Linked DNA regions of Homo sapiens. The gene in region 1 interacts genetically with each later gene. Each region holds a gene or a part of one and is shown in the gene's direction. Other genes may lie near its edges.

Region 1 (3,500 bases):
GGCAGTGGTAGAGGGAGTGGGGCGGCTGCCCATCCACCACGTACCCCCGCAGGTGCTGCTGTCCCTGGAGCACGGGCTCTGGGCCCCCAACCTGCACTTCCATAGCCCCAACCCTGAGATCCCAGCGCTGTTGGATGGGCGGCTGCAGGTGGTGGACCAGCCCCTGCCCGTCCGTGGCGGCAACGTGGGCATCAACTCCTTTGGCTTCGGGGGCTCCAACGTGCACATCATCCTGAGGCCCAACACGCAGCCGCCCCCCGCACCCGCCCCACATGCCACCCTGCCCCGTCTGCTGCGGGCCAGCGGACGCACCCCTGAGGCCGTGCAGAAGCTGCTGGAGCAGGGCCTCCGGCACAGCCAGGACCTGGCTTTCCTGAGCATGCTGAACGACATCGCGGCTGTCCCCGCCACCGCCATGCCCTTCCGTGGCTACGCTGTGCTGGGTGGTGAGCGCGGTGGCCCAGAGGTGCAGCAGGTGCCCGCTGGCGAGCGCCCGCTCTGGTTCATCTGCTCTGGTGAGCCCACACTCTGCCCCCAAGGTGGTCCCTTCCCTGGGGAAAGGCAGGCGAACTGGAGCTGGTGGTCCCCTGAGGTGCTCTCTGGGACGGGGATGGGCACACAGTGGCACGGGATGGGGCTGAGCCTCGTGACGTGCTCTCTGGGACAGGGATGGGCACACAGTGGCGCGGGATGGGGCTGAGCCTCATGCGCCTGGACCGCTTCCGAGATTCCATCCTACGCTCCGATGAGGCTGTGAAGCCATTCGGCCTGAAGGTGTCACAGCTGCTGCTGAGCACAGACGAGAGCACCTTTGATGACATCGTCCATTCGTTTGTGAGCCTGACTGCCATCCAGGTAGGGCCCAGCCTGCCAGCGTGTGAGCAACGCCAGCCCCAGGGCTCTGGCTTTCCCTGGAGCCCAGGAGCTGCAGTGTTGAGTCCGGGGCCCCTGACAGCCCCTTTGCTAGGCAGAGCCTTGTGCTGGGGGCAGGACGGGAGGGGAGGAGGGGTCTCAGTGGGGCTGTGTGGGGGCCATAGGGGCTTCTTTCCTATCAGGAGACCTGGGAGGGTCGATGGGGCGCGGGGGTGGAGATGGCCTAGTGGGGCCGGGGGCCGCCCCCAACAGCTGCACCTGCTGGAGGTTGCAACCTGAGTGTCCTGTTCCCACCCCAGATAGGCCTCATAGACCTGCTGAGCTGCATGGGGCTGAGGCCAGATGGCATCGTCGGCCACTCCCTGGGGGAGGTGGCCTGTGGCTACGCCGACGGCTGCCTGTCCCAGGAGGAGGCCGTCCTCGCTGCCTACTGGAGGGGACAGTGCATCAAAGAAGCCCATCTCCCGCCGGGCGCCATGGCAGCCGTGGGTAGGTCTCCCGGAGGGGCCCCCAGCACCTCCAAGAAAGGAGGCTGCCTTCTCGCTGTGGGGTCCTCACCTGCAGCCCTGGCCTGGCCCCCGTAGGATAGAGTGGCCCCCGCTGGCCCGGGGACACCCAGCTCGGACACAGCCGTGCGCGAGTCCCCTGCAGCTGCCCCACTGGCCCCACACCTGGCAGCCTTGGGCCTAGGCACGTGTCCATGGGCATCAGGCCTGCGTGGAGCCCCCGTGTGATGAGCACACAGCTGCAGCATAGCAAGAACCCAGGGGCTCTGGTGAAGCCAACACACGGGTCATCAGGGTTCCCTCAGACTGGTGCCCTCTGTTGGCACCCATCTCTGAGCCCCATGGGCCACATGTGGGCAGGACCTGGAAAGAACCTTGGCTGCAGAGGACTGAGGGGGCCACCATCTGGGGACTGGGCTCCCAGGAGCTGCCCCTGGAGTGGCAGCTCTGTAATGACACCTCCACCCACGGGTCAAACACAGCAGGGGGCGAACCTTTCTCATGAAGGCTCCAAGGCTGCCATTACCACACTTGTCATTACTGCCCCCAGCTGCAGGCAGTGTCTGGGTGGGTGGGTGGCTGGGAGCGGCTCGGTGTCCACGCTAAGCCTCTGAGGCTGGCTCTGCCATAGGCTTGTCCTGGGAGGAGTGTAAACAGCGCTGCCCCCCGGGCGTGGTGCCCGCCTGCCACAACTCCAAGGACACAGTCACCATCTCGGGACCTCAGGTGGGTGCTGCGGCCTGGGCGGGCTCCTCTGTCCCCTGCGCCTGCCATTGCAAGTCTGGCAGGGACACGCGGCCACGGTCTACGCCCCACCAAGCTCTGACGGGCCTGGGGCATGGGGCAGGTTTGTCCTCAGGTCCCTTGCCCATTCCCTCTCGGTTCCCTTGGGGTGAGGTGGGTGCGCCCTACCTCTCCGAGCCTGAGGTGGGTGCCCAGCCAGGATGCTTATCCAGGCTCCCACGATGTCCAGGCCCCGGTGTTTGAGTTCGTGGAGCAGCTGAGGAAGGAGGGTGTGTTTGCCAAGGAGGTGCGGACCGGCGGTATGGCCTTCCACTCCTACTTCATGGAGGCCATCGCACCCCCACTGCTGCAGGAGCTCAAGAAGGTGGACTAATACGGCCTGGGGGGTGCGGGGCGGGCCAGGGGACCCACAACCCAGCACTGACCTGGCCCCTCATGCAGGTGATCCGGGAGCCGAAGCCACGTTCAGCCCGCTGGCTCAGCACCTCTATCCCCGAGGCCCAGTGGCACAGCAGCCTGGCACGCACGTCCTCCGCCGAGTACAATGTCAACAACCTGGTGAGCCCTGTGCTGTTCCAGGAGGCCCTGTGGCACGTGCCTGAGCACGCGGTGGTGCTGGAGATCGCGCCCCACGCCCTGCTGCAGGTAGGCCCAGCCTGGGGGCAGCAGGCGCCGGGAGCCTGGGATGGGCGCCTCAGCTGAGCACCAAGAGAGCCCACCTGCCCTGCCGCCCCCAGGCTGTCCTGAAGCGTGGCCTGAAGCCGAGCTGCACCATCATCCCCCTGATGAAGAAGGATCACAGGGACAACCTGGAGTTCTTCCTGGCCGGCATCGGCAGGCTGCACCTCTCAGGGTGGGTCCCTTCCCAGCCCGGGTCTCGTCTCCCGGAGTCGGGGACGGCGTGGGGTGGGTGAGCGGGGCTGCGGGCCCCTCACTGACCCAGGCCGGTGGCAGCAGCCCTGGATGGTCCACCGCAGGCAGTGGGTGGGCTGAACCCAGAGCCCCTGGACCCCGGTGACGGGTGTGCTACCCATGCCTCCCTTCTCCGTAGCATCGACGCCAACCCCAATGCCTTGTTCCCACCTGTGGAGTTCCCAGCTCCCCGAGGAACTCCCCTCATCTCCCCACTCATCAAGTGGGACCACAGCCTGGCCTGGGACGTGCCGGCCGCCGAGGACTTCCCCAACGGTTCAGGTTCCCCCTCAGCCGCCATCTACAACATCGGTGAGCAGGGGCCCGGCGGGTGGGCAGACTCTTCCCTCCCCACAGACGCCCGCTCTGTGCTGAGGCCTGTGCCCTCCCGCAGACACCAGCTCCGAGTCTCCTGACCACTACCTGGTGGACCACACCCTCGACGGTCGCGTCCTCTTCCCCGCC
Region 2 (3,500 bases), on another chromosome or scaffold:
GACTCGGGAGGCTGATGGGGCTGGTGGGCCACTGCTCCTCTCTCCCCCACTCATGGCTGTCAGGCTGGGATTGGTTCTGTTCTTGGATGAGGGCTCAGGTTGACCCTTGTGGACTCCAGGTAGCCGGTGATAGAAAGCAGCTGGCAAAACCCAAAGTGAATTCCCAAGCTGGGGTTCATACTCAGATCTCAACTCCACTGGAGTGGTGACCAAGATCCAACAAATCAACAGAAGGGGTTTCTGAGTCATTAAAAGCATAAAAGCTGAGGCATAAAGCTTCTGCGCTAAAGTCCTAGGAGAGTCCTCTAGGCTATCAGTGTGGGTTGACGTACTCTGTTTTTATACACAATTCTTTCAAGCTGAAATATCAACTTTCAGACAAAGAAGAGGATTTGGTAGAGTTAGGCATCTTGACAACCACGAGGCATTATTTATCTGTCCATTCTGTGTTTATTAAATACCTCTTTGGTGCTGGTTACCGTCTGGGTGCTGGAGATACAAAGATGAATGAGGCATGGTCCCTGCCCCAAAAGATCATCTAGGGAGACAGGCACTCAAACAGGCAGTCATGTTACAATGTGACAAGTAGGTACAAGAATCTAATGAGAGTACAGGAGCTCCTACTGTTCCTGGTGGGTGGTGGGGTTACTGAAGGCTGCACGGAGGAGGTGACACCCCTGTGCTTGTTCTTGGCAAATAACGAGGTCCTCAGAACGTTAACCTGCAGACAGAGTTTAGCACAGTGAGAGGTTATGGGAAACTATGGTGAGTTGAAGGAATGTTGAGTTGTTTGGTTGTCGATGAGGCTGCAAATATCAGAATGCAAGAGAATGGGGCAAAAGATTCCCTGACATACAAGTTTCTGCCTCAGGAGTTTGGATTTTATTCTGAAAACATAGGGAATCATTTAAGGGTTTTAAAGAAGAATGAAATTTGCATTTAAGAACACTTTGGAAGTTGTGAGGAAATGAATTGCCAGGCATGGTGGCATGTGCCTGTAGTCTCAGCTGCTGGGGATGCTGAGGCAGGAGGATCATAAGCCCAGGAGTTTGAGGCTGCAGCGAGCTATGATTGCACCTGTGAATAGTCATTGTACTCCAGCCTGGGAAAGATGGTCAGACCCCACCTCTTTAAAAAAAAAAAAAAAAAAAGAAGGGAATTGAAAATTTTTAAAAGAAAAGGGCTGGAGACAGAGAGCTCAGGAAGCTTTTTTAATAGTTGGAATAGTCTAAGCAAGACCAGGTGAGGTCTCAGCAGAGGGTAAGGATGGGGGAATGTGCAGTGTGTTGAAATTCAAGAGATATTTGAGAGAACCTAAAGGATTTAATTCTCTCCAGTTGGATTTGGGGGGAGCAAAGAAGAGAGAGGCCAGGTTTCAAGTTGAGCGGAGAGTTGTACCCTCACTGACCCAGAAGAAAACCAGAGGAGGAGCTTGTTTGTGAGACAAGACGATGGTTTTCTCTTTTTTTTTTTTTTTTTGAGATGGAGTCTCGCTCTGTCGCCCAGGCTGGAGTGCAGTGGCGCGGTCTCACTGCAAGCTCTGCCTCCCGGGTTCATGCCATTCTCCTGCCTCAGCCTCCCGAGTAGCTGGGACTACAGGTGCCCGCCACCACGCCCGGCTAATTTTTTGTATTTTTAGTAGAGATGGGGTTTCACCGTGTTAGTCAGGATGGTTTCGATCTCCTGATCTCATGATCCACCCGCCTCGGCTTCCCAAAGTGCTGAGATTACAGGCATGAGCCACTGCGCCCGGCCAAGATGATGGTTTTCATTTTGTGCCTGCTGAGTCTGGCAACCTCCAGCCAGACACATTCAGTGGGTGGTTAGAAATATGGTCCTAGAGATTAGAAAAGAAGCTAAAAATTGGAAATCCACATTGTAGTCATTTCTGTGTAGTTGGTAGTGAGGCTGTAGAAATAGCCTCTTCCTATGCTGTAGATGGGCCTGTTCCTATGCTGGTTGAGTTCTTACGGTGAGCTTCTATTGGCTGTAGTAGAGAAGAGACGGCCACTACACACCAGCATTTAATGATAGGGAGAGTTAGGGGGCCCAGCAAAGAGCACTGAGAGTGAGACCTTCCAGAAGACCCAGAAGCTAAGAAACAGGGGGTCTCAGTAAGGGAGCGTCAGGAATCAGATGCAGAAGAGTCCCTGATTAAGTTGGGGAAGAATCCCCTGGCTCTGACCATTAGATGCCATTGTTTCATCATTTCACTGAGACAGTGGAGAGAAAGATGAAACCCTGTTTTCAGTGAGACGAAGAGGGAGTGAGGGTGAGGAGGGGCATGGGGAGCTAGGCATTGAGGTGGGAAATAAATGGTGATACTTAGATTAAGATGGGCCAGGGGAGCTTTTAATGTAAGGCTCACACCTGTAATCCCAGCACTTTGGGAGACCAAGGCAGGCGATCACTTGAGGCCACGAGTTCAAGACCAGCCTGGCCAACATAGTGAAACTCCATCTCTACTAAAAATACAAAAAATTAGCTGGGTATGTTGGTACACACCTATAATCCCAGCTACTTGGGAGGCTGAGGCATGAGAATCACTAGAACCCAGGAGGTGGAGGTTGCAGTGAGCCAAGATAATGACACTGCATTCCAGCCTGGGTGACAGAGGGAGACTCTGCCTCTAAAGAAGAAAAAATTTCTTTTTAAAGATTATATTGGTCAGGAGCGGTGGCTCACACCTGTAGTCCCAGCACTTTGGGAGACCAGGGTAGGTAGATCACTTGAGCCCGGAAGTTTGAGACCAGCCTGGGCAACATGGCAAAACCCCATCTCTACAAAAAAAAAAACTTTAAAAATTAGCTGGTTGTGGTAACGTGCCTTAGCTACTTGGGAGGCTGAGATGAGAGGATCACCTGAGCCTAGAGAGGTGGAGGTTGCAGTAAGCCATTATTGTGCTACTGCACTCCAGCCTGGGCAACAGAGTGAGATGCTGTTTCAAAAAAAAAAAAAAATTTTTTTGTTTAAGGAGAGGCTTAACTATAATCTATAGAGAAGAATCTAGTCCAGAGGAAAGAGTTGAAGATCCTTGCTAATTGAGGAAGCAAAGGTTTGGACAGCAGAAAAAGAGAGGGGGCTCCTGAGCCAAGGGCAGGGGGTCCATCCCGGGGATGACCATGATCCCCCTGAGACTTCTATTAGTGTGGAGGCAGGTGAAGATCGGCTTGTGAGTGGAAGTCTGAGCTGAAAGGGGTTCTTGCTGATGACCTCTCATTTTGCTTTTGGAGAAATTTACACCGAGGAGGAGGTAAAATGAGAGACTTGGGGAAGGTAGAGAAGGTGGGGAGAGTTGCCTCCGGACCTGGAAAGAGTGGGCCAAGGGTGAGGGAAAGGATGCGAGGAGGCCCCGTAGTGTTGGTGGGCACCTGGCTGCAGGTGCCAGGATTTGTTTTTCTGACAGGCTGGTGAAGACAGCAACAGCAAGGGGAGAGGGCAAGCAACCTGAAACAGGCACCCAAGAATGGGGGAAATATTCTGTTCTGGGGTCATTTTTG
Region 3 (3,500 bases), on another chromosome or scaffold:
GAATAAAATGTTCTCCAGTTAATTGCAAAGTGCTTTTGTACTTAAAAATGAATTTGCATTTTATCTTTTTCTACAACTTCTGGAAAGTGTTTTAGTTGGCATTTGTCATTTGATTTTGTACAATTTTGTAAATTTTCTGGAAATCTAAATTCCTACAAAGAGTCCATCACAGGATTTTCTATTTTTTAATTGTTTCTACATGAAAGGAAGTGTTAGTGTAAAGGCTAGCCTGTTCCATTTACACTTCATGCAATTTGTTAAGAAAATAATTAAGCTTTGGAGCTGGTAGAGACCATATTGTTACAGCCTAAACCCTCCACAGGGTACCTGGAACAGAATGGAAACTCAATAAGTTGTTGATAAATAAATGAATCATTTAGTACAATGTCTTCATTTCACAGTTGAAGGAACTCTGTGATAACTTGCTCCCTGTCACATGGTGGCATAGGAGGGGTTAGAACAAATGTTGCTGATGTCATTCATCATGCTCTAGTTGTGGATTTCACATTTAAATTGTAACATAAAAAAGACTTTAAGTTTAGTCTTTGAATAACTTCCTTCATTTTAAATCTTGTGTATAAATAAATTTCTTAGGTTAATATCTGCTACATTTTAGAAAGGCAGTAGGAAGAAGTTTATACAAGTCAAAAGAATTGTTTTAAAGGGAAAGTAAAGGAAAATATCTGTTAGTGGCTTATTCGAGGTGTGTCAGTTGATGAATTTCCTTTCTCTCAACCATAAGTTTTCTTTGCTCTGTTATATATTATTAGGGTTTCCTAGTTACTCTAAAAGACTTTCTGTTGGAACAATTTGTTTTTCTCAAGCACAACCCATCTCCAACTTGTCTGTATTTCTGAGACTTTCAAGAAATGTTGGTTATCATTTTAATTGATTTTCTGCTAGGATGGAAAAAAAGAGCCAAGTTCATGTACCTGTTTGAAGGGGCCCAAACTGTCAGAAATAGGGACGATTGCCTGGATGATAACGCTCTGCGATGCCCTCCACAATTTCATCGATGGCCTGGCGATTGGGGCTTCCTGCACCTTGTCTCTCCTTCAGGGACTCAGTACTTCCATAGCAATCCTATGTGAGGAGTTTCCCCACGAGTTAGGTAAGGAGCTCTGTTCATATTGTAAAAGTCTGCTTACTTCTTGATTTCAGTGGAATGAGACTTTTCAGGTGACATGCTCTTAAAATCCTTCTGATGCACTAAAATGAAGACCTTGTTGGACATTGATGATTATCTTTGATATCATCCAGAAATAAAAAAAAAACTATTCACTTGATATTTTCTTCTTCTTCTTCTAGGAGACTTTGTGATCCTACTCAATGCAGGGATGAGCACTCGACAAGCCTTGCTATTCAACTTCCTTTCTGCATGTTCCTGCTATGTTGGGCTAGCTTTTGGCATTTTGGTGGGCAACAATTTCGCTCCAAATATTATATTTGCACTTGCTGGAGGCATGTTCCTCTATATTTCTCTGGCAGATATGGTAAGAAGCTTAAAATTTGTATTTTCTTTTAATTTAAAATTTGGAAATGAGTATCTGGATTATAAGTTAACTAAGGGTGGCCTTCTGCTTTCCGCAGTGTGGAAGGCCTTTCTGTTGTAATTCAGAACAATCCCATTTCAACAGATCATTCTACTTGAGTAGTTTACACTAATAGTAATTTGAAACTGATCCTCACTGGTTCTTTAAAACATAATCGTATTGTTTGAAGGTGAAATGATTTGTTTTTGCTGAAATAGAGATATTTTCCTCTATCTCTATTCCCCTTGTGGTTGGTACATCTTGTCTTATGTTATAGTATGTCCCTATAGGACTTTTTCTCCTTTTTCTCCCTCTTTTGTGTCTATGCCACATTTGGAAGAGGAATAACTTATTAGAGTAAATAGCATTTTGTTATTTCAAAGTTCTAAACAGTGACAGCTTTTTGGGTTAAACTAAAACTGGTACACTAAAATTGGTAAAATTTTGACAATAGTTATTTGACATAGTATATATTTATATCTGTTCAATGTCTGTGTCTTTGTATCTGTGTGTATGTGTGTGTTTGTGCTCAAAAGAGCGTGCATGGCCGGGTGCGGTGGCTCATGCCTGTAATCCCAGCACTTTGGGAGGCCGAGGCGGGCGGATCACAAGGTCAAGAGATCTAGACCATCCTGGCCAACATGGTGAAACCCTGTCTCTACTGAAACTACAAAAATTAGCCGGGCGTGGTGGCGGGCGCCTGTAATCCCAGCTACTCGGGAGTCTGAGGCAGGAGAATTGCTTGAACCCGGGAGGCAGAGGTTGCTGTGAGCCGAGATTGTGCCACTGTACTCCAGCCTGACGACAGAACGAGACTCCATCTAAAAAAAAAAGAGTGTGCATGTGTGTGTGTAAGAGAGAGAATATCCTGTGCATTTTAAAATAAATCATGGAAATCTTTCTATAAAATGATAATATGGTAGTGTATGAAAATCAAGGACTATTTCTTTTGCATTTGGAACTGGATGTATTACATACATAATTTAATAATTTGAGTTTTTTATTTGCATTCTTACCTCCAAATTATATTTGTCTAGCTCTGTTCGTTGTTCTCTGCAGACCCTCAGAAGAGCAAGGATTTCATCTCTTAGAACCAATGCTACATTTATAACTTTTGTCACAAAATTAATGTCTCATGCTATCTTATAGTCATTTTACTTTCTGATATAAGAATGGAATCTTACTAGAGTTGTTCAGTTTAAAGAAATAATACTAAGAAATAATACTCATCCTGGAGTGAGCAAAATAGGCACAGTTCAAGGGGCTTTTCCATTCATGGGGCTTTTCCTCTAGAAAGAGGGGATCCTTAAATTAAACAACAAAAAATCACACAGATGACTAAATAATTACAAATAATAAAAAATGCTATGAAATAAGAGAGAAAGTAGAATATATGATGAGAGATGATAATAAAGGAATCTAGAATAAACTAGGATTAGCTAGCAAAAGTGTTTTAGCAAGATATAAGGTAAAACGTGAAGGATTTAGTCCACTGAAAAATTAGAGAAATACAAGTTCTGGTACAGGTGATGGTAGATGTGAAGATTTTGCTGGGTAAACTTGAGGTCATGAAAGAATGGGTTGGGTGAAGCATAGAGAGCAGGTAATGGAAAAGGAGAAAGAGAACATAAAATGAGGTAAATTCCATCCCACTGATTGATTCAGTTGGAGAAAAATACTACTTCAGTACTTTTACTCTTGTTGATGCCTGAAAGAACTAGATATTCCTATTAAGCTATCAGTACTAAAACCTTTAAACATCCAAAGTAAATGATCATACCACCCCTCCCAGCATTCTATTACAGGAGCACCTTGTTTTATTGCACATTGCTTTGATGCACTTTGTAAATGCTAGGTTTTTTGCACATTGAAAGTTTTTGGCAACCCTGCCTCAAGCAAATCTGTCAGTGCCATTTTTTGAATAGCATGGGCTTATTTCCTGTCTCTGTCACATTTTGTTAATTTTTA
Region 4 (3,500 bases), on another chromosome or scaffold:
AATGTGTACAGAAGTTCATCGAAATTGATCAAGCATGGAAAATTCTAGGAAATGAAGAGACAAAAAGAGAGTATGACCTGCAGCGGTGTGGTAGGTGCTTGTGTTGAGGAGCCACAGCACATCGGCAACTCTTAGAAGCACACTCTGCAGCCATTCCTGGGGAGCATTTTCCAGCATTTGCACCAAGTGTTATTGTTGCCTTTATTCCTCCCCTCCATCACTGTTTTTAATTATGCCCTATTCTTAGCAGTGACTATTGTGTATCCATTGAGAAGTTAACAAAACTACTAGGATGTGGCTTCTTGTGAAGCCTTGAAAGCTACTTTTTATAACATTTGAAAAATGTTTAATTACACATTACTAACTAATATGCTTTATATGTTTAAAAACTTTTTATTAAAATAAATATGGATTAACATTTTAATTGTACTTTTAAGACTATACAGTATAAATGACAATCCAAATGAAGATACTATATATCAGATGACATCATAAAGCACTCTGCTGTCTTTGAGCTCATTTTAGGCTGGGTTTCATGATTATCTTCATGATAAACTATTCCTTGTGATTGGTATAAATGATATTTTAGGAATGCACATTACCTAAGCAATTTTAAAAGTCATTTCTTTTATGCTTTTTAGAAAATAGCTTTTTAAAACAGTGACAAGCTGTTATGAGAAAGAAAGAGGGAAATGTAGGTCAGGTTTGTCACACATGGACTGCAGTTACACGAAGTGATAGGCTGTCTTTCAGCACTGGCCTAGGGACAGGAGTCCCTCAGCCTTGTGTTTGAACCTTCAATATGCACCCCACATGCTAATGGGAGGAGTCAATAATCAGTTACAGCCTGTGGGGAAAACACTCAGTCGCTCTCTCCAATAGCATATCAGGCTCAGCATTGACTGGGATGTGTTGATAAAAGCTGTCTCGTAGTCGCTTATTGAATCCCCTCCCATGCCCTACAATGGCACACCATCAGACCTCACAAAATGATTCTGAGGCTTTGTTAGTACTAAGGTTATGAAAATTTGATTTGAGAAGCAAGCCTTTATTTTTAAAACACAGCATTATAAGATGAAGCCAGTGACATTTGCAAGACATCCCTATTTATTTTCAGAGGGATTTCTACCAAGAAAATTAAGGTTTCTTATAGGCTGTGTGATACTTCTGTGTGGAAAGACTTGAACTGTTTATGTACTGGAGTATTTGTTTATAAGAGTGACTTATTTATAGTACTAATCAGCTCAAAGGCTTTACTACTTTTTAAAAGACTGATGAGCTTATTTTTTTCTTAAATATTAAGAACCTGATGGGTGTACCTTTGCTTTTCAAAGCAAAGGTTAATTTTCAAAAATGGCTTGAATATTGGGTTCTGCTTTTGCTGGGTGCATAATGAGCATCTGTCTAATGTATTTATTTTTTAAACATGTTTGTACTTTTTGCAAAAGAATGTAGAAGTGGCTTCGTTTGATGATAAGTTCTACCCGTTGGTGTATCTTTTTAACCTTGGTTCACATGATTTCTATGAAAGAATTGAAACTAATGCACATGAATGTGTTGTGTGTTAGAAGAAATCTACATTCCTAAAGCCACTACGCTCTACTGAAGATGATGATTCTTTCAGGTGTTTTTGCACATCTTTACTAGTCTCTACTATATAGGATGCCAGTTTGCTTGAGATAAAAATAATTCACACGACATTGTACCCTAAAGAGTATAGGGTATATACTTTCAATGTTGCTCTACATTTTTGCCACTCCACAGCCTGTGTACTATTAAGAACATATTAGTGAAGTTGACTAGAAGCCTGCTCTCTAAAGAGGTAGGGAGGGATCAGGAATCATAAAAATATTTTCTCAAGAAGCTACAGGGTGGGGTAGGCCAGAAACCAAAAGAAATAGGAAACCAGGTTAAAAGTTAGCAGAGAATTGCATGAAGAAAGATTTGAGAGATGTCAGAAGACAAATAATCATCATATTCATGCCTTTTTCATTGTCTTCGAAAGGTCCTTGGAACTGCGGATTTCTTTTGAGCTTTGAGTCCTACTTTTAAGATCTTAATGGAAGCACCTGTGGCCTACTGTGTCACAGGGTACTCCTGTAGGTCATAGATGAAGTCACAATGAAGTTTAGACAAAGTAAATACTGTGAGAGTTGGACCTGATTCATGATTCAGATAAATAGTTTGGAATTTATACAATATCAGTTTGCTCTGCAAGTTTTTCAGGCAGCATATTACTGAATTTAGCTGTTCTAGAAGGACAGCTTTTCATGACACTTTAGTACCTCAGATTTAAGTACTAAGTATTGCCTCTTTTACCAGAGGCTCCAAATACTGACACTACTTTGTTTCAATTTTAAATGGAGATTGACATACTGTTTAGGTAAGAAGAGTATCCAAATATAACTTGCTATTTTTAAGCCTTTCATACCAGAGCTATTTTTCAAAACTCTTACAATAAACCTACTTTCATATTGTTATTTCTTTTGAATACCGTTATTAATTTTTTCTTCTTGACTCAGCTTCAGTAAAATGGCTCCTCAAAAAAAGGAAATGAACTTGAACATCTCTAAAAGTGAGGATTTAGGTTTGCTAGAAGGAAAACCTTTGAGAGTAATAATTTGTTAAAGACCAGGATAGGTTACCGAGAGAGAGAGTTTGTTATAACCAGGTCAAAGCACTCTTTTTTTCTGGGTCACCCCCTGGGGACATGGAAATAGCTTTGTTATACAGAACTCTTTTTACATGTGGTGATAATTCATTGTAAACCTTTCTTTTCATAGGGGTGTGCTTTAAATATGTTTGTTTCCTGCCCACCATTAACTTGCAGTATAAAATAAAATTGAGCTCTCTAGTACTTGGGAAGGAGGTAGGAAATGCTTTATTGGCTGGTCTTGAATGCTTTCTCGTGTTTCATAGCTCCATGTTGGTGCTCTGTCTTAAGGAAAGCCTCATCAATATTGCCCACAGCCATATATTTATCTAAAAGATAATTTAAAGGGACACTTGACGTCCATATTTCTTTGCTTCTCAAAAGAAATGATCATATGTGTTCTTTCCAATAAAGAAAAAGTAATACTCCAGGGCAGATAACCCAAAGTATTGCATGTATGTTTTTTTCTCCTTCATTCCTACTTCTATATGCTTAGTTGACATTTTAGAGCAATGTTGGCCAGGCTGAAGAAAAGTAAATTTAAGAAAAGAATGAGTAATAATTAGTTCCCAGAGATTATACATTTCGAAAGCAATGTTAACTCTGAATTTAATCAATTAGTTCTAGTTGGCATATTAAACTTATTGTTTCTGAGGATGCCTCCAAAGGCTGCTTCCAGTGTTCCCCTGAAAGGCATGTAGTTTTTCAAGATTAGGCTTTGCATTTCAATTTTAAATGGAGATTGACCTACTGTTTAGGTAGCACTTTGGAAAACCCTTTCAGGATTTATAAAATGTTCACATGAATAATACCTGTTGAGTAGATTTTGTTGCCTTTATAAATCTTG
Region 5 (3,500 bases), on another chromosome or scaffold:
GAAACCCACAAAAAGTCATCAGGGTTGAAGAATTTCTTTTTTTTTTTTTTCTTTCTTTTTTTTTTTTTTTTTTTTTTTTTTTTTTTTTGAGAAAGAGTCTCACTCTGTCGCCCAGGCTGGAGTGCAGTGGCGCGATATTGGCTCACGGCACCCTCCGCCTCCTGGCTTCAAGCAATACTCCTGCCTCAGCCTCCCAAGTAGCTGGGATTACAGGTGCCCGCCACCATGCCCAGCTAATTTTGGTAATTTTAGTAGAGACGAGATTTCACCATGTTGGCCAGGCTGTTCTCAAACTCCTGACCTCAGGTGATCCACCCACCTTGGCCTCCCAAAGGGCTGAGATTACAGGCGTGAGTGACCGCGCCCTGCCCTCCTTTTTGTCCTTATGACTGATGGATGGCCCATCTGGCAGGCAGCCTGGGCCCGCCCGTGTCCCTGTTTGGTGAGGGCAGGAAGCCAGGGCAAGGGGAGGCAGGTGGAAAGTCAAGCAGGAGGTCTGGGATCGGGGCATAGTGTGGCCTTGGCTCCTGACCCCTTCTTCCCTCAGGTGAAGGCGTTTGGGCCGGGGCTGCAGGGAGGCAGTGCGGGCTCCCCCGCCCGCTTCACCATCGACACCAAGGGCGCCGGCACAGGTGGCCTGGGCCTGACGGTGGAGGGCCCCTGTGAGGCGCAGCTCGAGTGCTTGGACAATGGGGATGGCACATGTTCCGTGTCCTACGTGCCCACCGAGCCCGGGGACTACAACATCAACATCCTCTTCGCTGACACCCACATCCCTGGCTCCCCATTCAAGGCCCACGTGGTTCCCTGCTTTGACGCATCCAAAGTCAAGTGCTCAGGCCCCGGGCTGGAGCGGGCCACCGCTGGGGAGGTGGGCCAATTCCAAGTGGACTGCTCGAGCGCGGGCAGCGCGGAGCTGACCATTGAGATCTGCTCGGAGGCGGGGCTTCCGGCCGAGGTGTACATCCAGGACCACGGTGATGGCACGCACACCATTACCTACATTCCCCTCTGCCCCGGGGCCTACACCGTCACCATCAAGTACGGCGGCCAGCCCGTGCCCAACTTCCCCAGCAAGCTGCAGGTGGAACCTGCGGTGGACACTTCCGGTGTCCAGTGCTATGGGCCTGGTATTGAGGGCCAGGGTGAGTTGCCCTGCCGTGGGGTATGTGACGGGGGACAGGGACCAGAACCCCCGAGCCCCAAGCCTCCTCTCTGTGCCTTTGCAGGTGTCTTCCGTGAGGCCACCACTGAGTTCAGTGTGGACGCCCGGGCTCTGACACAGACCGGAGGGCCGCACGTCAAGGCCCGTGTGGCCAACCCCTCAGGCAACCTGACGGAGACCTACGTTCAGGACCGTGGCGATGGCATGTACAAAGTGGAGTACACGCCTTACGAGGAGGGTGCGTGCTGGGGACTCCCACAGGCTGGCAGACGGGGTGGGTGGGGTGGCCCGGGCTCCTCCTGACCTGGCCTGCACTCCTCCAGGACTGCACTCCGTGGACGTGACCTATGACGGCAGTCCCGTGCCCAGCAGCCCCTTCCAGGTGCCCGTGACCGAGGGCTGCGACCCCTCCCGGGTGCGTGTCCACGGGCCAGGCATCCAAAGTGGCACCACCAACAAGCCCAACAAGTTCACTGTGGAGACCAGGTAAGGGAGCCCCCAGGAGCCCGTGTGGCTGGTGGGCCTGGGAACCCCAGGAATGACCGGCTGTCTGTTTGGACCAGGGGAGCTGGCACGGGCGGCCTGGGCCTGGCTGTAGAGGGCCCCTCCGAGGCCAAGATGTCCTGCATGGATAACAAGGACGGCAGCTGCTCGGTCGAGTACATCCCTTATGAGGCTGGCACCTACAGCCTCAACGTCACCTATGGTGGCCATCAAGTGCCAGGTGAGGAGGTGGCGGCCAGGGCAGGGCTGGGACTGTCTGCTCGTCCCCACCCTGTCTCATACAGCCGCCATCCCTTTGCCCCAACCCTCAGGCAGTCCTTTCAAGGTCCCTGTGCATGATGTGACAGATGCGTCCAAGGTCAAGTGCTCTGGGCCCGGCCTGAGCCCAGGCATGGTTCGTGCCAACCTCCCTCAGTCCTTCCAGGTGGACACAAGCAAGGCTGGTGTGGCCCCATTGCAGGTCAAAGTGCAAGGGCCCAAAGGTGAGTGTTTGCATGCCTGGAGCCAGGGGTCAGGAGGGCAGTGTCCTGTTTGAGGGCCGGGAAAGGAAACTGGAGGCCCAAAGTGAGGACCAGAGTGCAGAGGTGGTGCAAGTGTGTAGGTGTTTTTGGAAGAGCCTCAGGTGACAGTGCAGCCAGGTGGGGGACTTGGAGGAGGTAGAGCAGATGGGACTGGTCACTGAGCAGATGTGGCAGGAAGGCAGGCAGGCAAGGGTCCCAGCTGGCACCCAGATGGGTGTCTTTCGTGCCAGAGGGGGTCAAGGCCATTCCCAGGGTCGGGTGGATGAGGATAAAGCGAGGTCTAGGCCTGGGGCTGGGTCCTGGCCGTCCAGTGTGGTGGGGTAGGAATGGAGGCCCAGGAGACTAGCTGATGCTCTGTCCCTGGGGCTGGGGCCAGGCCTGGTGGAGCCAGTGGACGTGGTAGACAACGCTGATGGCACCCAGACCGTCAATTATGTGCCCAGCCGAGAAGGGCCCTACAGCATCTCAGTACTGTATGGAGATGAAGAGGTACCCCGGAGGTAAGAGGCAGGGCCTGCTGCCTGTGGGGAGTGGCCCAGGCTGGATGCTGAGAACCTGTCTGACTGCTCACAACACCAATCCCTCACAGCCCCTTCAAGGTCAAGGTGCTGCCTACTCATGATGCCAGCAAGGTGAAGGCCAGTGGCCCCGGGCTCAACACCACTGGCGTGCCTGCCAGCCTGCCCGTGGAGTTCACCATCGATGCAAAGGACGCCGGGGAGGGCCTGCTGGCTGTCCAGATCACGGTGAGCTCCGGGCACAGGCAGGGGAGGCAGGGGGGCCTGGGCGGCTGGAGTGTGGGCTGCGGGTGGCTGGTGTCTGATCTCCCTGCGGAGCTGCACCAAGGAGGGCAGGGAAGGACAGGGCCCCTGTCTTTGGTTTGCTAAGGTTGTGACTACCTTAGGATGGTGGTGACAGGCACAGGCTTCCCCAGACGTGCACTTGCTGCTAACTTTGAGCACGTCACCAAAGCCTTCTGTGCCTCAGTTTCCCCACCTGTAATATTCTCATGGGGCAGGTATAGGATAGAAGCTTGAGATCACCCCGGTGAGCTCCTCCTAGTGCTGGCCAGGCCCTGGGGCTGAGGATGGGTGCCAAGCTGGCTGGCCGCGCCTGTTGTCATGTGGGAAGTGTGGGATGTTTTAGTCTCCATTCTGGACTCTGCCAGGTGCAGGCAGCCCTTTTGGGCCATAGCAGTTAAGATGCCTGAGGCCCAGAGACTGTCCCTGTAGCAGCAGCGCTGGGCACTCTGGGAGCGCCTGAGGCAGGCCCGGGGCTACTCGGGCTTGGGCCAACTGCCTCCCCTGCCT
Region 6 (3,996 bases), on another chromosome or scaffold:
GCAAAAAAACCTTTCTGTACCCAACTGCCTCATCTATAAAATGGGGGTAATGATAACGAGGCCACAGAAGGCGACTGTGAAGTCGAGTTCCAGTGCTTGACGTATACACACCCCAGGGTTTGCACTGCTGTTAGAGCCCAACGGGAGCTGGCGCTGCCTGCTAACACGGTAGATACCTGCATCTGACCCTGTTCCTGGTGCTCGCCCGGGATATTGGCAGGGATGGCTCCTTCTCATCTCTCAGCTCAAGCTTTCTCAGGCTGCCCAGAGGACCAAGTCTCCCTCTGTCCCTGTCCTTCGGATCGCCTCCCTATTCACCTCCTGCGTCCTCGCACAAGAACTCAAGTCCTTAGGAGGCAGGGCCAACCCTGTTCCCTCCCAGGACCCGAGAATGTAGCGGGGTCCCTGAGGTGCTGATGTCCACATGGACACCGAGGTCAGTTCCGGGCCAAAGCGGCCAGCGCAGGGGCTGACCACTCAGACCTCACTCCTCGCAGGGGTGAGCGGGCGACGCTGCCTCACGTCATTGTCCTGCCCTCCAAGGCCCGCGCTCGTCCTCTGACAGGATGCCCTGACACCGCAGTGCGGGGGCGGCCTCCCAGATAGGGCCGCAGTCGCTAAGTCCGAGGCGGCTGGCTCACCTCACTGAGCCCGGCTGGACGTGGGACCACCGGTCGCCGCGGCCAGGGAACCACCAAGGAGTCAAGGCGAGCCTACCGCCAGCAGCTTCTGCCCGGGCCCACGCGCCGTTCCGGGTAGGCCCGCGGCGCAGGCCACTTCCGGCAGCGGTGCACCATGGGACTTGCAGTTCGCTGGCAAAGGTTGAGTCCCGGGCGTGGCGGCCGCGCTCCATGTTGGGAGCTGTAGGCGCCGCGTGGCATGCTGGGGGTGCTAGGTACCGAAGGCAGATGCCGTCCCTTTGGACTCGCTTCGTCCAACGCCCCCACGAGTTTCGGTGGCCCTTCGCCCCACGCTATAAGAGCAGTCACTTCCGGAACTGCTGCCCTTCGCCTTTGCCGCGAAAAGTGCCTGACGGGGGCTGGGAAGGGGGAGGGGGAAGGAGTCAACGACTCCCTCCCCGTCGTCATTGGCTGAGCGCCTCGTGACGTCACTCTGAGGCGCCTCATGCGGCGCCGCGCACGGGTCCCAGAGCCTTCTGGGTAGCGGTTTAACCCCGCCTCTTGCGTCGGCGCCTTCCTTTTCCTCCCTGTCGCCACCGAGGTCGCACGCGTGAGACTTCTCCGCCGCCTCCGCCGCAGACGCCGCCGCGTGAGTGTGGTGACCGGGCCCGGGGTGCCGGCTGGGGACGCGGAGTCCGTGGGGATGCGGGGTGGGCGGCGGGGTATTTTTGGGACGGAGGCCTACGGGCCGAGCCACGCGCGGCCTCGCCCGGCGGCCCCGGGATGGGCCGGCAGGAGGCCGCCGGGGTAACTCCGCCGTCGCGTCCTCTCCGCCCGCCTCAGGATGCGCTACGTCGCCTCCTACCTGCTGGCTGCCCTAGGGGGCAACTCCTCCCCCAGCGCCAAGGACATCAAGAAGATCTTGGACAGCGTGGGTATCGAGGCGGACGACGACCGGCTCAACAAGGTAGCGGCCGCCCTTGCCCCGCAGCCGCCGTGGGGCCCCAGTGTCCCATACAGGCGATTCTTCTGCCTGATCCGGCCACATGCTGGAGGGTTCGGGGAGAGGCTCGTTTCAGTCTAGTTGGCGATTTCTTGGATAGAGAAGTAAGCCGGGCGGAGGTCGGGCGCGGTGGCTCACGCCTGTAGTCCCAGTACTTTGGGAGGACGAGGCAGGCGGATCACCTGAGGTCAGGGGTTCGAGACCAGCCTGGTAAACATGTCGAAACCCCATCCCTACTAAAAATACAAAAATTAGCCGGGCGTGGTGGTGGGTGCCTGTAGTCCCCCTACTTGGGAGGCTGAGGCAGGAAAATCGCTCGAACCCGGGAGATGGAGGTTGCACGGATCGTGCCACTGTACTCCAGTCTGGGTGGCAGAAGGAGACCCTGTCTCAAAAGGAAAAAAAAAAAAAAAAGCAGGGTGGGTACGAGGCAAAATCGTGATTAACAAGCTTTGGAAGTTTAATACCAGTGAGCTGCGTAAGATTGCGTTAAAAAAAAAAAAAAGCAGTCCTGGCGCATGGCTCACCCGGCTTTGGGAGGCCATGGCGAGTGGATTATTGGAGCCTTGAAGTTCGAGACTGGTCTGGAAAACATTGCAAGACCCGGTCTCCACAAAAAAAAAAAAAAAAAAAAATGGTTGGAGGCAGTGGTGCACATCTGTAGTCTCAGCTACTCATGAGGCTGATGCGGGAGAATCATTTGAGCCTTAGAGGTCAAGGCTGCACTGAGTAGTGATTGTGCCACTGCAGTCTAACAGAACCAGGCCTCGTCTCTAAAATACAATAAAAAATTAGCCAGGCTTGGTTGCTCATGCCTGTAGTCCCAGACTGAGGTGGGATAGTCACTTGAGCCCGGGAGGTCAAGGCTGCAGTGAGATCCTACCACTGCACTCCAGCCTGAAGTCAAAGTCAATTTCATTGCCAGTTTATTTTGCCAGTGTTGAAGATACCTATGAGTAGTCAACATAAGTAGTGAGATGCCCTGTGTCCTTTTGTCAGTCCTAAGTCTAAGAAAGCTAGTGTCCATTTATTTTTATATCACTTCCCAAGTGAGGCTGGTGGCTCCCTTTGGGCAGTGCAGTTCTGGAAACTTCAGGGCCTATTCCCATGTGGGGAACCCAGTCCTGCTGTGACTCTGGGAGGGAGAGGGCCGGGGATACAATCGTACATTCCTGGTAACAGCCCTGTGATTGTCTGCTTCAGGTTATCAGTGAGCTGAATGGAAAAAACATTGAAGACGTCATTGCCCAGGGTGAGTTGATGTGGACGGGCTTTCGTTTGTTTTCATGGTCCATCCTAATCCCTGCCGGTCCATCTGTGGCCTGCCAGGTTTCGCTTGTGGACCAGAGCACCCTAGAAGCCTCACCCGAGGAGTGAGCAGGGCTCCAGTGGGCTCACGTCATGGGCACTTCTAGACACTCTCAGGAGCAGGGCAGCAGGGGGCACCCTGTGTTCTCAGCAGACGTTTAGGTGGCCCTGCCTCTTAAGCCTGACTGCTCCTAGCCCTGAGGCCATTCCCCAGGATTTGTCTGAAGCTTGGTGTCTGGAGAACTGAGTTCACGTCAGCAGTCCTTACCACATGCTTTCTGTGAGGGGGTTGGGGGCAGGGACTGAGGGTGCCAGGGATGTCCATAGGCTCCTTGCCTCTTTGTTGGGCAGATGGTTTTTTGTTGGCTTCAGCTGAGCTGGTGGAACTTGTTTGGAAGTTGAGCTGTTGGGGCAGCTGTTCTTGTCTTCCATGCATGTGACCACGACAGGGCCAGCTCAGCAAACGGGCCAAGCCATGAACACAGCGTTGTGGCCAGAGATGTGGATACTGGGGCAGCACACTCATTCCCTACCTAGTTATGAACATGTCTGTCCAGTGGACCTCTGAGGGTGGAGGTGGGGAAATTGGGCAGGCAGGCAGTGTGGGCCTAATTCCTAGAAGGCAAGTCCCTGGATAGGAAAGGTGGGGAAGAGAAGTCCCCGTTGAGGAGTGGCTCAGGGAGGGAGTGTTCAGGAAGAACGGGAGACACTGGCATATGGTGGGTCCAGATATGTTGGGTGCCATGTGCCATCTCTGGTGCCATCTAACTTCCCTGTGGAACAGCCTCCCAGGCTGGGCAGCTGCTCTGGTCTCACCTCTCTGCTTTCTGTAGGTATTGGCAAGCTTGCCAGTGTACCTGCTGGTGGGGCTGTAGCCGTCTCTGCTGCCCCAGGCTCTGCAGCCCCTGCTGCTGGTTCTGCCCCTGCTGCAGGTAAGTGGTGGCCTGGTGAGTGGGCAAGGGGCTGGGGCTCAGACGGTGTTGCTGCAGTGGGGTCTTCATGGGGGGACTGGCCTGGCACTTGGGCAGTGCTCACCATGCCTCTCCTCTGTTCCACAGCAGAGGA
Region 7 (3,500 bases), on another chromosome or scaffold:
AGCACAGTGGACCCAGAGGGTTTGACTTGGCAGTATGATGAAAAATTGTAGTCTGATGTGAATGGTCAGAAGAGAGAGAGATGGAATATTTGAAGATTGTGAGCAGGAAGTACATGCTTTTTTTTCTCAAGAAAGATGATGACATAGGTTGACTGTGAGGGAATGTATAGAGATGTCATGACTTAACTAGTGATTTGAGCTCCAGAATGTTAAATGTGCAAGAGACGTGTCATGGAGCCCCTTCTAGTGGCAATAGTTACAGTAAAGTAGGGGAGACATGAACCAATTAAACACACAAATAATTGAAAGTCTTAATTGTTTCACTCCATATGTTATTTTTGTATGTGTGATTTATTTTATTTTACTTTTACATTTTTTATTTTTTTGAGACAGAGTCTCACTGTGTCGCCCAGCCTGGAGTGCAGTGGCGCAATCTCGGCCCACTTCACCCTCTGCCCCACCTCCTGGGCTCAAGTGATTCTTCTGCCTCAGCCTCCTGAGTAGCTGGGACAGGCACGCGTCACCATGCCTGGCTAGGAATTTTGTATTTTTAATGGAGACGGGGTTTCACCATGTTGGCCAGGCTGATCTCGAACTCCTGACCTCAAGTGATCCACCCTCCTCAGCCTCCCAAATTGCTGGGATTACAGGCGTGAGCCACGGCATCTGGCCTTTATATGTGCTTTTAGGATTGTAGAAGATGTACCTTGGCTGGATGCATTGGCTCATGCCTGTAATCCCAGCACTTTGGGAGGCCGAAACAAGAGGATCGCTTGAGTCCAGGAGTTCGAGACCAGCCTGGGCAATGTAGTAAGACCTCATTTCTACAAGAAATAAAAAAATAACTGGGCGTGGTAGCTTACGTCTGTAATCCCAGCTACTCCAGAGGCTGAGGCAGGAGAATTGCTTGAACCTGGGAGACAGGTTGCAGTGAGCCAAGATCGCATCACTATACTCCAGCCTTGGCGACAAGAGCAAAACTCCATCTCAAAAATTAAAAATAAATAAGTAAATAAATAAATAAATTACAGGCACATTAGCATGTGCCTGTGGTCCCAGCTACTTGGGAGGCTGAGATGAGGGGATCACTTGAGTCCAGGAGGTGGTGGTTTTAATGAGCTGGGATTGTGCCACTGTACTCCAGCCTGGGCGACAGAGCAGACCCCTGGTGAAAAGAAAAAAGAAAATGTATCTCAAATAATACTTAATTTTAAAGAAATCTTAAATGTAGAATGTGATTCCATAATTATAATATTGACTAGTTCACTGCAACCTTGAACCCCTGGGCTCAAGTGATTCTCTCACCTCAGCCTTCCAAGTATCTGGGACTACAGGCATGCACCACCATGCCTAATTTTTTATTTTTGGTAGAGGCAGGGTCTCCCTGTATTGCCCAGGCTGATCTCAAACTCCTGCCCATGATCCTCCCGCCTTGGCCTACGAAAGTGCTGGGATTACAGGTATCTGCTACTGTGCCTGGCCTGTAGAAAAATTTATAGCTGAAGGACTGGGAGTGTGTGTATGGGAATAACAGTAGTTATCTCTGAGAAAGGGGTTGGAACCTGTGTGGAGACAGAAAGGAGAGATTTTCACAATTCTGTAGCATCTGTATAGTTTTAATATTTATTTATTTATTTCAAATTTTAATAGAGACAGGGTCTTGGTATGTTGCCCTGGCTGGTTTCGAACTCCTGAGCTCAAGTAACCTCTGCCTCTCTTCCCACAGTGCTGGGATTACAGATGTGAGCCACTGCTCCTGGCCTACTTTGAATTTTTAATGATGGTGATGAATTAATTTGTGACTAGCATTATAAGAAAAATAAAATTTAGAGTTTAAGTGACATTGTAGGTAGATTTTGATTCAGAAGTTTTAAGTTTAGAGAATGAATTTGAACACTTATCACTGATAAGTTACAATGTTTAGGGTCCCAAAATATTGCAGCTGTCAAATGATAAAATATATAAAAATAAAATTTAGTATTCATAAGGACATAAATGCAACCAGACATAGGAATTTTAATAATTTGACGAGTCAGTTTTCTTTTCAGTAAGGTTTAACAGTCTGTATTTGCAGCTACATTGCTTTCAACCAGGTGTGTCTAGTCTGTGATCCAGATTGCTTCTGAAATTTTGTTAGCAAGGTGCTCATAATTGCTTTTTTGTCATTGAATTTAAGTTGCCATTTATTGAGAATGATGCCTGTAGGTTCAAGCATCTGCTTCAGTTATGGAGTTATTTTATTCCAAGTATATTCCATTAGTAAGAAAGCTTACACTTGTGAAGTGCATGCTGATTTGGGGGTAGAGAATCTATGCTTATACAGCTACTGTGTGTGCTCTTAGAGCAATTACTGAAGAGTGGCGGAAAGTTGATATTAGGCTTTTGTCATTACCTTACTTAAGAACTGTTTATTGGGAGTTTAGGCCGGGTGCAGTGGCTTATGCCTGTAATCCTAGCACTTTGGGAGGCTGAGGCGAGTGGATCACCTGAGGTCAGGAGTTCGAGACCAGCCTAGCCAACATGGCGAAACCCCATCTCTACTAAAAATACAAAAAATTAGCCGGGCATGGCGGCGGCCACTGTAATTCCAGCTACTTGGGAGGCTGAGGCAGGAGAATTGCTGGAACCTGGGAGGTGGAGGTTGCAGTGAGCTGAGATGGCGCCAGCCTTGGCGACAAAGCGAGACTCTGTTTCAAAAAAACAAAAAACAAAAAACTGTTTATTGGGAGTTTTGATAAGACAAGTCAAAGACCTGAAAATAGAGGTCAGACTAACGATTTCTGCTCTAACAAGCATCATTGTGAGTTGTGAATGCCTCCCTTGTGAACATGCCCTGTGTACCTGATGAATTGCTGCCAGTATTGTCTCGGGCACCCCAAGATTACAGTTAACCCGGTATCCCCGCAGGTGGAATGTCTTGGGCTAGTAGTGCTATCAAGGGACAGGGCTATGAAACTGACAGGTTCAACTTCTTAGCTCCCATTTTCCTCATCAGGTATGTCTGAGGCTAATCCCCTTCCTTCTTCTAGCTCTGTTACTTTTTTGTTTGTTTCTTTGTTTGTTTTTTTGAGACGGAGTCTTGCTCTGTTGCCCAGGCTGGAGTGCAGTGGTGCAGTCTAGGTTCACTGCAACCTCTGCCTCCCAGGTTCAAGCTATTCTCGTGCCTCAGCCTCCCGAGTAGCTGAGACTACAGGCACGTGCCACCACAGCTGGCTATTTTTTTTTTTTTATTTTTATTTTTAGTAGAGACGGGGTTTCACCATGTTGGTTAGGCTGGTCTTGAACTCCTGACCTCGTGATCCGCCCGCCTCGGCCTCCCAAAGTGTCGGGATTACAGGTGTGAGCCACTGTGCCCAGCCAAAATGTTCTTAAGCTCTCAAGATTCATATAGTGAGCCATTATAAACCAAGGAGATTGGAGTTAGAAGTATTATTAAAGTTGAATGCTGTTGTTGAGTTACATTATTAAAAACAGTGAATTTAATATTGCATTACTTAATC

The links.
Region 2: changes in FASN (region 1) and CAMK2G together harm fitness less than expected from each alone (positive genetic interaction), as found in Homo sapiens cells (one large-scale study listed by BioGRID).
Region 3: changes in FASN (region 1) and SLC39A8 together harm fitness more than expected from each alone (negative genetic interaction), as found in Homo sapiens cells (one large-scale study listed by BioGRID).
Region 4: changes in FASN (region 1) and DNAJC24 together harm fitness less than expected from each alone (positive genetic interaction), as found in Homo sapiens cells (one large-scale study listed by BioGRID).
Region 5: changes in FASN (region 1) and FLNA together harm fitness more than expected from each alone (negative genetic interaction), as found in Homo sapiens cells (one large-scale study listed by BioGRID).
Region 6: changes in FASN (region 1) and RPLP2 together harm fitness less than expected from each alone (positive genetic interaction), as found in Homo sapiens cells (one large-scale study listed by BioGRID).
Region 7: changes in FASN (region 1) and GFPT1 together harm fitness more than expected from each alone (negative genetic interaction), as found in Homo sapiens cells (one large-scale study listed by BioGRID).

Annotation. Positions count from the first base shown.
Region 1 is NC_000017.11:82,088,237-82,091,736, reverse strand, and holds part of FASN (fatty acid synthase), read left to right. Parts: intron 1-52; coding exon 53-515; intron 516-667; coding exon 668-855; intron 856-1,172; coding exon 1,173-1,362; intron 1,363-1,596; exon of another isoform or gene 1,597-1,777; intron 1,778-2,010; coding exon 2,011-2,105; intron 2,106-2,352; coding exon 2,353-2,487; intron 2,488-2,564; coding exon 2,565-2,768; intron 2,769-2,860; coding exon 2,861-2,976; intron 2,977-3,174; coding exon 3,175-3,347; intron 3,348-3,429; coding exon 3,430-3,500. UniProt on the Homo sapiens protein: Fatty acid synthetase is a multifunctional enzyme that catalyzes the de novo biosynthesis of long-chain saturated fatty acids starting from acetyl-CoA and malonyl-CoA in the presence of NADPH.
Region 2 is NC_000010.11:73,843,556-73,847,055, reverse strand, and holds part of CAMK2G (calcium/calmodulin-dependent protein kinase type II subunit gamma), read left to right. Parts: intron 1-3,500.
Region 3 is NC_000004.12:102,265,483-102,268,982, reverse strand, and holds part of SLC39A8 (metal cation symporter ZIP8 isoform a precursor), read left to right. Parts: intron 1-903; coding exon 904-1,111; intron 1,112-1,308; coding exon 1,309-1,493; intron 1,494-3,500. UniProt on the Homo sapiens protein: Electroneutral divalent metal cation:bicarbonate symporter of the plasma membrane mediating the cellular uptake of zinc and manganese, two divalent metal cations important for development, tissue homeostasis and immunity.
Region 4 is NC_000011.10:31,414,860-31,418,359, forward strand, and holds part of DNAJC24 (dnaJ homolog subfamily C member 24), read left to right. Parts: coding exon 1-90; intron 91-3,500. UniProt on the Homo sapiens protein: Stimulates the ATPase activity of several Hsp70-type chaperones. This ability is enhanced by iron-binding. The iron-bound form is redox-active and can function as electron carrier.
Region 5 is NC_000023.11:154,357,635-154,361,134, reverse strand, and holds part of FLNA (filamin-A), read left to right. Parts: intron 1-547; coding exon 548-1,145; intron 1,146-1,229; coding exon 1,230-1,403; intron 1,404-1,488; coding exon 1,489-1,651; intron 1,652-1,728; coding exon 1,729-1,889; intron 1,890-1,980; coding exon 1,981-2,151; intron 2,152-2,566; coding exon 2,567-2,690; intron 2,691-2,779; coding exon 2,780-2,936; intron 2,937-3,500. UniProt on the Homo sapiens protein: Promotes orthogonal branching of actin filaments and links actin filaments to membrane glycoproteins. Anchors various transmembrane proteins to the actin cytoskeleton and serves as a scaffold for a wide range of cytoplasmic signaling proteins.
Region 6 is NC_000011.10:808,771-812,766, forward strand, and holds the start of RPLP2 (large ribosomal subunit protein P2), read left to right. Parts: upstream 1-1,196; 5' UTR 1,197-1,269; intron 1,270-1,463; 5' UTR 1,464-1,464; coding exon 1,465-1,587; intron 1,588-2,826; coding exon 2,827-2,875; intron 2,876-2,910; exon of another isoform or gene 2,911-3,044; intron 3,045-3,764; coding exon 3,765-3,863; intron 3,864-3,989; coding exon 3,990-3,996. Other genes in the region: PIDD1 (p53-induced death domain-containing protein 1), read right to left, coding at 177-182. UniProt on the Homo sapiens protein: Plays an important role in the elongation step of protein synthesis.
Region 7 is NC_000002.12:69,377,228-69,380,727, reverse strand, and holds part of GFPT1 (glutamine--fructose-6-phosphate aminotransferase [isomerizing] 1), read left to right. Parts: intron 1-3,500.